Homo sapiens: one gene and its partners. The protein of the gene in region 1 interacts with the protein of each later gene in a biochemical or structural test. Each region holds a gene or a part of one and is shown on either strand. Other genes may lie near its edges.

The links.
Region 2: the proteins of FAT1 (region 1) and ENAH form a complex in vitro, tested with the Homo sapiens proteins (one study listed by IntAct).
Region 3: the proteins of FAT1 (region 1) and HOMER1 form a complex in vitro, tested with the Homo sapiens proteins (one study listed by IntAct).

What each region holds. Positions count from the first base shown.
Region 1 is NC_000004.12:186,619,233-186,622,986, reverse strand, and holds part of FAT1 (protocadherin Fat 1 isoform 1 precursor), read left to right. Parts: intron 1-1,211; coding exon 1,212-3,754.
Region 2 is NC_000001.11:225,646,424-225,650,177, reverse strand, and holds part of ENAH (protein enabled homolog), read left to right. Parts: intron 1-3,754. UniProt on the Homo sapiens protein: Ena/VASP proteins are actin-associated proteins involved in a range of processes dependent on cytoskeleton remodeling and cell polarity such as axon guidance and lamellipodial and filopodial dynamics in migrating cells.
Region 3 is NC_000005.10:79,507,529-79,511,282, reverse strand, and holds part of HOMER1 (homer protein homolog 1), read left to right. Parts: intron 1-265; exon of another isoform or gene 266-896; intron 897-3,754. UniProt on the Homo sapiens protein: Postsynaptic density scaffolding protein. Binds and cross-links cytoplasmic regions of GRM1, GRM5, ITPR1, DNM3, RYR1, RYR2, SHANK1 and SHANK3.

The DNA of each region.
Region 1 (3,754 bases):
GTGAATCCCTGGTGTGCAGCTCACACTGAGCAGTTCTGGTCTGTGAAATGCCACACTCGTGGCAAACCTAGAGCAAGAATCTGAGAAAGCAGTTAAGTGGCAAGTGAGCTTTGTTTTGGGTAAGTATAATAGTTCATTTGGGGAAAATAAATTCTGTGCTATGACAGGGATGGTGAATTCTGGGTGCTTGTTCATGAAACAGAAAAAGGATGGGCTCGTGGATGGATTAAACCTGAGAACCTGCAACGCCACCCTGATTTATCCAAAAGGGCTGTAGAGAACTGCTTGTTTCTTTGAAGATTCAGTCGATGATACAAAATTATACAATATTCTGGAGTTGTGGTTGCAGCTAAAGATACATACAGTATAGCCTGAAAAGGTCCAAAGAAAAGGAGGTAAAACACTCTATCTTTGAGCAGCCTCTCAGCTTCAGCACTGCTGACATTTGGAACCAGATATTTTTGGTTGTGTAGGGCTGTCCTGTGCGTTGTAGGATGCTTAGCAACACCCCTGGTCTCCACCCACGAGACGCCAGGAGCACCCTCTTCCGACAAGTAGTGACAACCAAAAATGTCTGCAGGCATTACCAGATGTCTCCTAGGGAGCAGAATTGCCCCCAGGGGAAAACCACTGACCTAGAGGATAAGTTGACCTGAAAAAGATAAGAAGGGAATGTTGTTGCAATCTTCAAAACCTGTAAAGTGGGGTGGGTTACACACATTTATCCATGGACAATTGTCTCTTGAAGCTTGATGTCAATTTCTTACTGAATCGAAATCTTTCGTAATGAATACATATCTTAAGAATTTGTAAGTCATAACCGTTGAAAATACAAATGTGGTCCAGAAGTGTTTTGAGGGACTCCTGGAAAGTGACTCACTCAACTGCTTTGTGGAAGGATAGCCTTGTCTTTCCACCACACATTCCCAGTGCAGCCGAGAGAGGGAGTTTTGGCTTCGCTAAGAGCAGAGTGCTGTTTCTTCTGTTTTTTGTTTTTCATCATTTATGGACAAAATTCTGTAAAGTATACCTGGTTTTAGGTGGATAAAAATAAAACAAGTTGAAGGTTCCATTCAAATATTGACATCCCCTGAGTTTCTGCTTAATTTCAGAATATAATTTTTAAGGATACTTTGTTTCTGTTTCTCTAACTACTACTACTACTGCCCCTTGTGTTTTTCTGTAACATGTATTTTTTCCTCTCCTTCCAGGAAATATTGGAAATTCTTTTATGATTGATCCTGTCTTGGGCTCTATTAAAACTGCCAAAGAATTAGATCGAAGTAACCAAGCGGAGTATGATTTAATGGTAAAAGCTACAGATAAGGGCAGTCCACCAATGAGTGAAATAACTTCTGTGCGTATCTTTGTCACAATTGCTGACAACGCCTCTCCGAAGTTTACATCAAAAGAATATTCTGTTGAACTTAGTGAAACTGTCAGCATTGGGAGTTTCGTTGGGATGGTTACAGCCCATAGTCAATCATCAGTGGTGTATGAAATAAAAGATGGAAATACAGGTGATGCTTTTGATATTAATCCACATTCTGGAACTATCATCACTCAGAAAGCCCTGGACTTTGAAACTTTGCCCATTTACACATTGATAATACAAGGAACTAACATGGCTGGTTTGTCCACTAATACAACGGTTCTAGTTCACTTGCAGGATGAGAATGACAACGCGCCAGTTTTTATGCAGGCAGAATATACAGGACTCATTAGTGAATCAGCCTCAATTAACAGCGTGGTCCTAACAGACAGGAATGTCCCACTGGTGATTCGAGCAGCTGATGCTGATAAAGACTCAAATGCTTTGCTTGTATATCACATTGTTGAACCATCTGTACACACATATTTTGCTATTGATTCTAGCACTGGTGCTATTCATACAGTACTAAGTCTGGACTATGAAGAAACAAGTATTTTTCACTTTACCGTCCAAGTGCATGACATGGGAACCCCACGTTTATTTGCTGAGTATGCAGCGAATGTAACAGTACATGTAATTGACATTAATGACTGCCCCCCTGTGTTTGCCAAGCCATTATATGAAGCATCTCTTTTGTTACCAACATACAAAGGAGTAAAAGTCATCACAGTAAATGCTACAGATGCTGATTCAAGTGCATTCTCACAGTTGATTTACTCCATCACCGAAGGCAACATCGGGGAGAAGTTTTCTATGGACTACAAGACTGGTGCTCTCACTGTCCAAAACACAACTCAGTTAAGAAGCCGCTACGAGCTAACCGTTAGAGCTTCCGATGGCAGATTTGCCGGCCTTACCTCTGTCAAAATTAATGTGAAAGAAAGCAAAGAAAGTCACCTAAAGTTTACCCAGGATGTCTACTCTGCGGTAGTGAAAGAGAATTCCACCGAGGCCGAAACATTAGCTGTCATTACTGCTATTGGGAATCCAATCAATGAGCCTTTGTTTTATCACATCCTCAACCCAGATCGCAGATTTAAAATAAGCCGCACTTCAGGAGTTCTGTCAACCACTGGCACGCCCTTCGATCGTGAGCAGCAGGAGGCGTTTGATGTGGTTGTAGAAGTGACAGAGGAACATAAGCCTTCTGCAGTGGCCCACGTTGTCGTGAAGGTCATTGTAGAAGACCAAAATGATAATGCGCCGGTGTTTGTCAACCTTCCCTACTACGCCGTTGTTAAAGTGGACACTGAGGTGGGCCATGTCATTCGCTATGTCACTGCTGTAGACAGAGACAGTGGCAGAAACGGGGAAGTGCATTACTACCTCAAGGAACATCATGAACACTTTCAAATTGGACCCTTGGGTGAAATTTCACTGAAAAAGCAATTTGAGCTTGACACCTTAAATAAAGAATATCTTGTTACAGTGGTTGCAAAAGATGGAGGGAACCCGGCCTTTTCAGCGGAAGTTATCGTTCCGATCACTGTCATGAATAAAGCCATGCCTGTGTTTGAAAAACCTTTCTACAGTGCAGAGATTGCAGAGAGCATCCAGGTGCACAGCCCTGTGGTCCACGTGCAGGCTAACAGCCCGGAAGGCCTGAAAGTGTTCTACAGCATCACAGACGGAGACCCTTTCAGCCAGTTCACTATTAACTTCAATACTGGAGTTATCAATGTCATAGCTCCTCTGGACTTTGAGGCCCACCCGGCATATAAGCTGAGCATACGCGCAACTGACTCCTTGACGGGCGCTCATGCTGAAGTATTTGTGGACATCATAGTAGACGACATCAATGATAACCCTCCTGTGTTTGCTCAGCAGTCTTATGCGGTGACCCTGTCTGAGGCATCTGTAATTGGAACGTCTGTTGTTCAAGTTAGAGCCACCGATTCTGATTCAGAACCAAATAGAGGAATCTCATACCAGATGTTTGGGAATCACAGCAAGAGTCATGATCATTTTCATGTAGACAGCAGCACTGGCCTCATCTCACTACTCAGAACCCTGGATTACGAGCAGTCCCGGCAGCACACGATTTTTGTGAGGGCAGTTGATGGTGGTATGCCCACGCTGAGCAGTGATGTGATTGTCACGGTGGACGTTACCGACCTCAATGATAATCCACCACTCTTTGAACAACAGATTTATGAAGCCAGAATTAGCGAGCACGCCCCTCATGGGCATTTCGTGACCTGTGTAAAAGCCTATGATGCAGACAGTTCAGACATAGACAAGTTGCAGTATTCCATTCTGTCTGGCAATGATCATAAACATTTTGTCATTGACAGTGCAACAGGGATTATCACCCTCTCAAAC
Region 2 (3,754 bases), on another chromosome or scaffold:
GGCAGGTGGTTAGGTAGTACTTAGATTTGCTTAGATACCTGTAAAAGTGAGATTGGTATGGGATAAAACGTTCTTGTGCTGCTTGCAAAAGTCTTTGGAATATTCTTTGGGATATTTTGGTGCTTAGGAAGTGCTTTTCAGGTTATATTAATATATGCTTAGTCTTCATGCTTTCAAGTCCTGTGGGACGTTAATGTTAGTCTTTTAAGTTGAGTCCTTTTTGGTTATATTAAGAGGTAGTTCTGATGTTTCAAAGGCCATCCAGAAATAGGAATGCCTGAACAGGAATTTCCAATTAAGTCGGTCAGAATCCTGAACAGAGGATATGATGAATATATTACGGTATAACTATTAGTGGTATCTGTCAGATGACTTTAATTTTAGGAATAGCATGATCACTGTGTATAATCTTATACAGAAGAGAACTGAATAATAGTTTATGTTCCTGAAACGGTCATAGGCATTTGAGTAAAATGCAGTATATAGATTTACTTGTTAATATTTTGCTTAAAGATGAATATTTAAAAAATGAAAAAGCATATTACTTATACAGGACAGTGGAAAGGTTGAGACCAAAAAGCTGGTACTTTTAGTGTCCTGTCTGTTTAGTTCTATTCTTATTTTTCATTTATGCAATGTTTCAAAAGTGTAAGATGCTTTGTGATTAAAGTGTGCGTGTATGTATGTGAATGCGTTTGTATGCATGTACATACAGTGTGTGCCTTTTAAGTGCATTTTTAAAATTAGTTGGTTTGTTACTTAAGATTTTTTTTTTTTTTTAACTGAAAGAGGAGCTTGTCTGATCTAAAATAGTTGCATGTAGCCTGGTGGCTAAGGAGAGCTCAGAAGATTTTGTATTTACATTCTTGGATCCGTATTAAAATAGTCCAGGCTTCCACTAGCTACTCTGACTTTCTCATATAAAAAGGTATAGTAGGGTTATGAGGATTTGTCCAAGCCATTTACTAGCTGGGTGACCTTGAAGTAATCACATTATTTCACTGATGCCTTTTTAAAAAATATGTAAAAATAGAGATAATTCTTAACTGAGTAGTGAGGATCAAATGATAATAGAAGGTACTTTATACACTGGTAAGCCTTAAATTTATGTTACTCCTCCTGTTTCCAGGCCTATTTCTATGTTAGACTATTTGGGTAAAACTTCTGGGCAGTGGGCTCCACCTTGCGACCTTATTTAGCTCAAGGATGTCAAAAAGACCACATTTTTATTATTTTATAGGTGAGGAAGCTGTTCCCTTCTTCTGTGTTTCCTTCCTTAGGGTCTTTGAAGTATCTTTATTTGTGGTAATCATAAATTTTATATACATTTCAGAGTGTGGTACAATCAAGGGTCAGAAGATCCAGGTTTTATATGCTGACCTGTTAATTGAGTAAACTGGTAAAAAAAAAAAAAAAAAAGGAGATAATCTTATATTTCACAGGATTGTTTTGTGAAGTGTCAAGTGAGATATCCATGAAAGGATACAAATAGTAGTCTCTTTGTTCCCATGGGTCTTCATTTATACTCGTAGCTGTTGGATGTGTGACTTTCCCACAGAGGTTTATTTTAGGAGCAAGAGCCAAATCTTCATTTTTTGAATGTCAGTATTGTAGGAATTTACTAAGTGAATAAATCTTGAAGAAGAGTGTGGATTAATAGAGAAAATTCACTAAAGTTTATTCAGTATTCAAGGTGTTGGATACCTTGTTGGCCCAGTTGGATTAAGCAAAATAACTATGGAGGCACCATTTGGCTGGTATAGAAGAAATTACATACTGAATAGGTTTTGGTGATTTATCTTACAGAAGGCTTAAAACAGGTGATTGTATAACTTGTAAAATATCTAGTCTGTATCATGAGTGTAAGAAAGATTTGAAAAAATGTGATTTCAATTTTTATATGGTTGTAGGGGAGTAAAAGGGTATTTAAACCCTACTTGTGCCAACTTAAAGTTGTCTTTTCCTCTTTTTTCTCCTCCTTGTTTGAAATTGATGAATGGAATTAAGTGGAAGTAAAAGTTAGAGAATATGAGCTGAGGCTGTACTTCAGTGGATGCTTCTTCAGATAAGGGTTTACGAAATTTTCCTGACTAGAAACAAGAAGGGGACTCCTTGTCAGACCTGGGATATAGTCCTTGACTTGCCCCTAACATGCTCCCCCAACCCCCTTGTCCCCCACTATTCCTGTGTGTTCCAGTGCACTTTACATGTTTTTTTGCTATTGAATTTATTCTGTCTTATAATTATGTGGTTCTTTTTGTCCCTCTTCATTGTAAGTTCCTTGAAGAGGATTTTTATATTCATGGTACTAGCAAAATACTAGCATTTTTATATTCATGGTACTAGCAAAATACTTGGCAAATAGTGGGTGGCCTGTGTAAGTGTTTGACTTTGACTGCGTTGCTCTTTTATAGAATCTGTTCACTAGCAACCCCATTTTTGGAATACCTGTAGTGTTCTAGAAGCTCTACTGGATATTGTAGGGTGTAGTGTAGTATTTGGTGGATACTAAATGTTAATAACATAATTTAATTAAGCAAGCAAAAACTCACATCCTGACTCCAGGAATAGGTGTAGAATTTGGTTTTCTTTTGTTCTTTTTTAAATTTTAATTTAATTTTTATTTTGTAGAGATGTGGTCTTGCTATGTGGACCAGGCAGGTTTTGAACTCACCTGGCCAGAATTTATTTCTTATTCTAACACAGAGCTTGGAAGTGGCTACAAGTGTCAGGATTGTCTAAATTCTAAGCCCTTTGGAGGATACCATGTTTACTTGACTTTATGATTAAATTCTGAATTACTGAAAGGGCCATCAATCTGTTTTTAAGTCTCTTTGACCAAAGAACTTGTAAATATTTTCAAGTAACAAGCATATGCATCTCTATTGGTTTAATTTATTTTTACCCCATTTAGTGCTTGCTTTGTTTTGATTCTTTTTTTGTTTTTGTTTTTTGAGATGGAGTCTCACTCTTGCCCAGGCTGGAGTGCAGTGGCATGATCTCCACTCACTGCAGCTTCCGCCTCCTGGGTTCAAGCAATTCTCTAGCCTCAGCCTCCCGAGTAGCTGAGACTACAGGCGCGTGCCACCACGCCCAGCTAATTTTTTGTATTTTTAGTAGAGATGGGGTTTCAACATGTTAGCCAGGATGGTCTTGATCTCCTGACCTCGTGATGCGCCCACCTCAGCCTCCCAAAGTGCTGGGATTATAGGCGTGAGTCACCGCCCCCAGCCCTGCTTTGTTTTGATTCTTATCAGTGCTTCAAATACCAATCACTGGGTAGTGTATGATACTCTTGAAGTATTAGTGTGGGCTGCCATAACAAAATACCATAGACTGGGTGGCTTAAACAACAGAAAATTATTTTTTATTTTTATTTATTAATTTTTTTGAGACAGTCTCACTGTGTCGCCCAGGCTGGATTGCAGCGGCTCGATCTCAGGTTACTGCAAGCTCTGCCTCCCGGGTTCACACCATTCTCCTGCCTCAGCCTCCTGAGCAGGTGGGACCACAGGCGCCTGCCACCACGCCTGGCTAATTTTTTTGTATTTTTTAGTTGAGATGGGGTTTCACTGTGTTAGCCAGGATGGTCTTGATCTCCTGACCTCGTGGGATTACAGGTGGGAGCCACAGCGCCCGGCCTAGACATTTATTTTAAGGTTCTGGAGGCTGGAAGTCAGAGATCAGGTTGCCAGTATGGATGGGTTTTGGTGAGGGTTCTCTTCCTGGCTTGCAGAAGATATCCTTCTCTCTG
Region 3 (3,754 bases), on another chromosome or scaffold:
AATTGCACCAATTTTAAATGAGAAAAATACTGAAAAATACTACTGTTCAAAACCTTAGAAATATGGCTTCCCTTGAGCATCTGCAGCTCTGTTTAAAACATGTTGGAGGAAAAAAAATCAAGCAGCAGTTTTTCATGTTGATGGCTGCATTTTGTCTAGACTGTGGAGTAGTAGCATCATGGAAGAAAATCAGTTTTCCAGAACCTTTAAGCTGCATGAATGCCTGTCATTTTACCAAGGGAAGCTTAGGATGAATTTTTTTTTCCCTGCCTGAGGTTTCTTTGTACAAATAGCACAGGAGGACCCCAGCCCCACAGCCCCATGCAGATGGCAGCCTGGCGGGGGGTCGCACCAGTCCTGTCCTCACGTTGGCAGATAGAGATATCTACTCTGAAGCCTCTGTAGGGGCCTGGGCACCTTTGGGAGCCTGAGCTGGAACTGAAGCTGGAGCTGCAGCCTGGGCCTTGGTTTGATCCTTGTCCTTGGCCTTTGGCCAGCACACCCTGAGCCCCTTGGCAATGCGGGCACGAGCATGCTTCCCAAGCTTGGGGTGGACAGTGTAGGCAAGTTGAGCTTGCGGCTGACACCCTTTGGGATCTTGGGCTTAACCTCCTTGGGCTTTAGGAGGGCCTTGATAGCCTTGGCATGTGCACTCATGGCCTTGGCACTGTTAGCCTGCATCTTCTTTAGGCCCTTCTTGTTGTGTTTCTTGGCAAACTGCATGTTCCTCAGGAACTTGGGGTCCACCCCCTTAAGAGATTCGTATCTTTGTGCTTCGGGTTTCTTGATACCATTTCTGTGCCATTTTTGGGACTGGTTGTGTGTGGTGTGGTTCTTGGACTTGGCCATGTCTGCACCTTAAGGCGCGGCTCCTGAAGCGCCTAGAATCTGAAGAGACAGGATGAATTTAATACTAAGGGGGCTGTTGTTTAAAGTGGGAAAGTTAGCACCACACATAACATGCATTTAGACACTTAGCATAATTAATTTGTTTATAAATGAATGTATCTGCCCTTTAGTTAATAAAGTTCTATATATGGACTGAGGAGAAAAAGGAGCGAGCATTTTGTGGTGCTATTTTTTTTTTTTTGGAAAGCCTGTATTTGGGGCTATGACCCTTTCTCATTGATAGTGACTTGAGTAGAGAGAGGAAGGGTAGATGGAAGTAGAAGAGCATACAGCAAAGGCATTTGCTGACGTTTCCACACTTTATGCGTATTTATGCCTAATAAATGTTTGTGGAATTAGCATAGCTGCCTGGACCTATTTCAAGCAAAAGGAAACAGGGCTTTAAATGGCTTTTAAAGCTTTACCTTGGCAATCCATAATTACCTTACTGTAATAGATATCTAAAATTTAATACTGTGGGTAAAGTGTTTCACATATTACAACCTTCTTTTTTTAAACTAATGTTAGGTTATAATAAGGATTTATCTTCGTCTTAATTGTAGATAATTATTGCAAGTCTAGGGGCAGTCTAAGCAAAGGAATTATTTTTAATAAAATCAGTGATTGGGCAGAAAAAAATTATGGCTCCCCTAATAGTAGTTTATGAACTTTTTGGAAATGGAGAAGAACAGCTGAAACTTGACAGTTGGCAAAGTCTGTCAAAGTATCTTGGATGTTGCATGAACTGTTAATTGCAGTGAAGGCAACTAAAGTATGGGTTTGTAAAATAGGTGTATCAGATCCCCTAAAAATTAAGGCATTCATGTATGTAAAATGAAGTCTCTGAAAAGTTTTGAAGCCTCAGTGAGGAGCCCCTGTTAGGTATGACCCCCACCCCCACCTCCAAATAGTATCTCATAATGACAGCAGTGAGTCAGTAGCTATTTCAGAACTATCACAGTAGGCAACAGAAATCAAGTAACTTCAACCACTTATTTCATGAAACCCTTTGTTTTTACTTAGCTCATTTTGGCAACCTAGTGCCATCAGCAATGGTAAAGAATTCTTTCCCTCCCTTCCCTTATTAAGAGCTACTTATACATAAAATGGGGCTCTCCCTGCTAATGGAATCTGTTAATGCTGTTTCTGATTTATCTCACCTGCCTATGGGAACTTCTGGAGTCCTTCCTTCCCCTCTTTCCCCAAATAACTTCCAGAAGCATGGAAATGAGTGCTGCTACATTGCAGCCCAAACTGAGTCTCTTTGCTGAAAGATGGGAAGCTGACACCTCCTTCTGCCTCAAACTGCAGGGTTCTGCTCTCTAGGGGTTGTAGCAAAAATGTGAAAATCTTGATCCAGCACTATAAATGGGTTTTATTGCAAAGATAACCACCCTATCATATCTGACAATAGACAACTTAGATGCAAGTCCTTAATTCGTCATTTGTTCATTTTACCAACTTTGAACCTTTGTTATAGTGCGTGTACTTACCTCAGTGCTGCTGATAGGAAGGCCAATACAATGTGCTCCTTCCCTTAGTGAGTTTATACTTTGGAAGTTGGGCAGACAGTCAAGCCTAAAATTAAAATGTGCAATGAAATTTTGTAGGAGCTATAATGTAGGGCATTATGGAGACACAAAGTGTGTGTTGGGGGGGCATTAGCTGCTGAGGGAAGGATAAAAAGGCTTTGTAGAGGAGGTGATAGTTGTTAAATACTGAAAGATGAGTACAAGTGAGCCTCTTAGACAAATAAGAGGGCATTCAAGGCAGAGAGAACAGTGATTGACACCACTAAAACGAGGAACTGCAAAGGAGTTTGGCATGACAAGCTTGTTTGCTTGAGCTAGCTCCCTTTGGTGTAGCAAGAGATAGGTCTAGAGCCTTATTATGCAGGGACTGGGTTGGAGAACCATGTAGATCAAATGAAAGATTGGATTATCCTGTAGTTTAGTGTGTTTAGAGGTTTTTTTGGCTATGACCCGTTGGAAAGATAAGCATCTTTACATTGCAACCCAATATGCTTGTATATAAATGATAAAATGTCACTACATAATACCCTTGCTTTGTATGGTACACTCTGGTAGTTTCTATTCTGTTCCGTTCTATTTTATTTTTAAGATAGACTGATGATGGTGACCCACTCAATTTATTTAATGACGCTGTGTTAGCAACTGGTAATTTGAAAAGCACTTCTCTTCTGTGTGAAGATTACTAAAGGGTTTTAAGCAGAGTAAGAACATGATCAGGGAAGTAGAATAAGAAAGCAATTTTAAAAATCATTTACAATTTGGTTTTGTGTCTTGTATCCTGTGGAAACACCAAGCCAGAACAATGAACTCTGGCTGGGTAGAGGAAGTGGACAGTTGGGCAGGCCCTGGAAGGTTCCGAAGTGGGGAGGGGAGGGATGGTGACTGAGAGATGTGTAGTTGGCTGAACGGGGCTTTTTCAGAATTAGGACATTTCATTGGAGAGGTAAGAATGTAGCAAAGAGCATGGTATGTTCTTAGCAGAGTCACTAACTATGGGTCATAAAATAGTGAATTTGGGAGTTAAGGGGTTGACAGAAGAAACTGTCCTTATTCATAGTTTATAGTTTTGAGTGATTAAACATCTCAGAAGAAAAGGTGGTTATATCCCAAAAGGTCTAACCTCTCTACTGCCATGTGATTTTTTTTTTTTTCAGTCTTTAGTGTTTAGTTGAAGTATTTATTTTTAGTTACTGGATTGTTATTTCAGATTAATATGACTAACTGGACAGAAGAGTAGGGAAAATGAGTGCCGAGTGCTTAATGTTTTCTGATATAATTTTTTTCTGATGTAGTTTTTAAATGACTATAAAACATTTTACATAGATTTATATCTC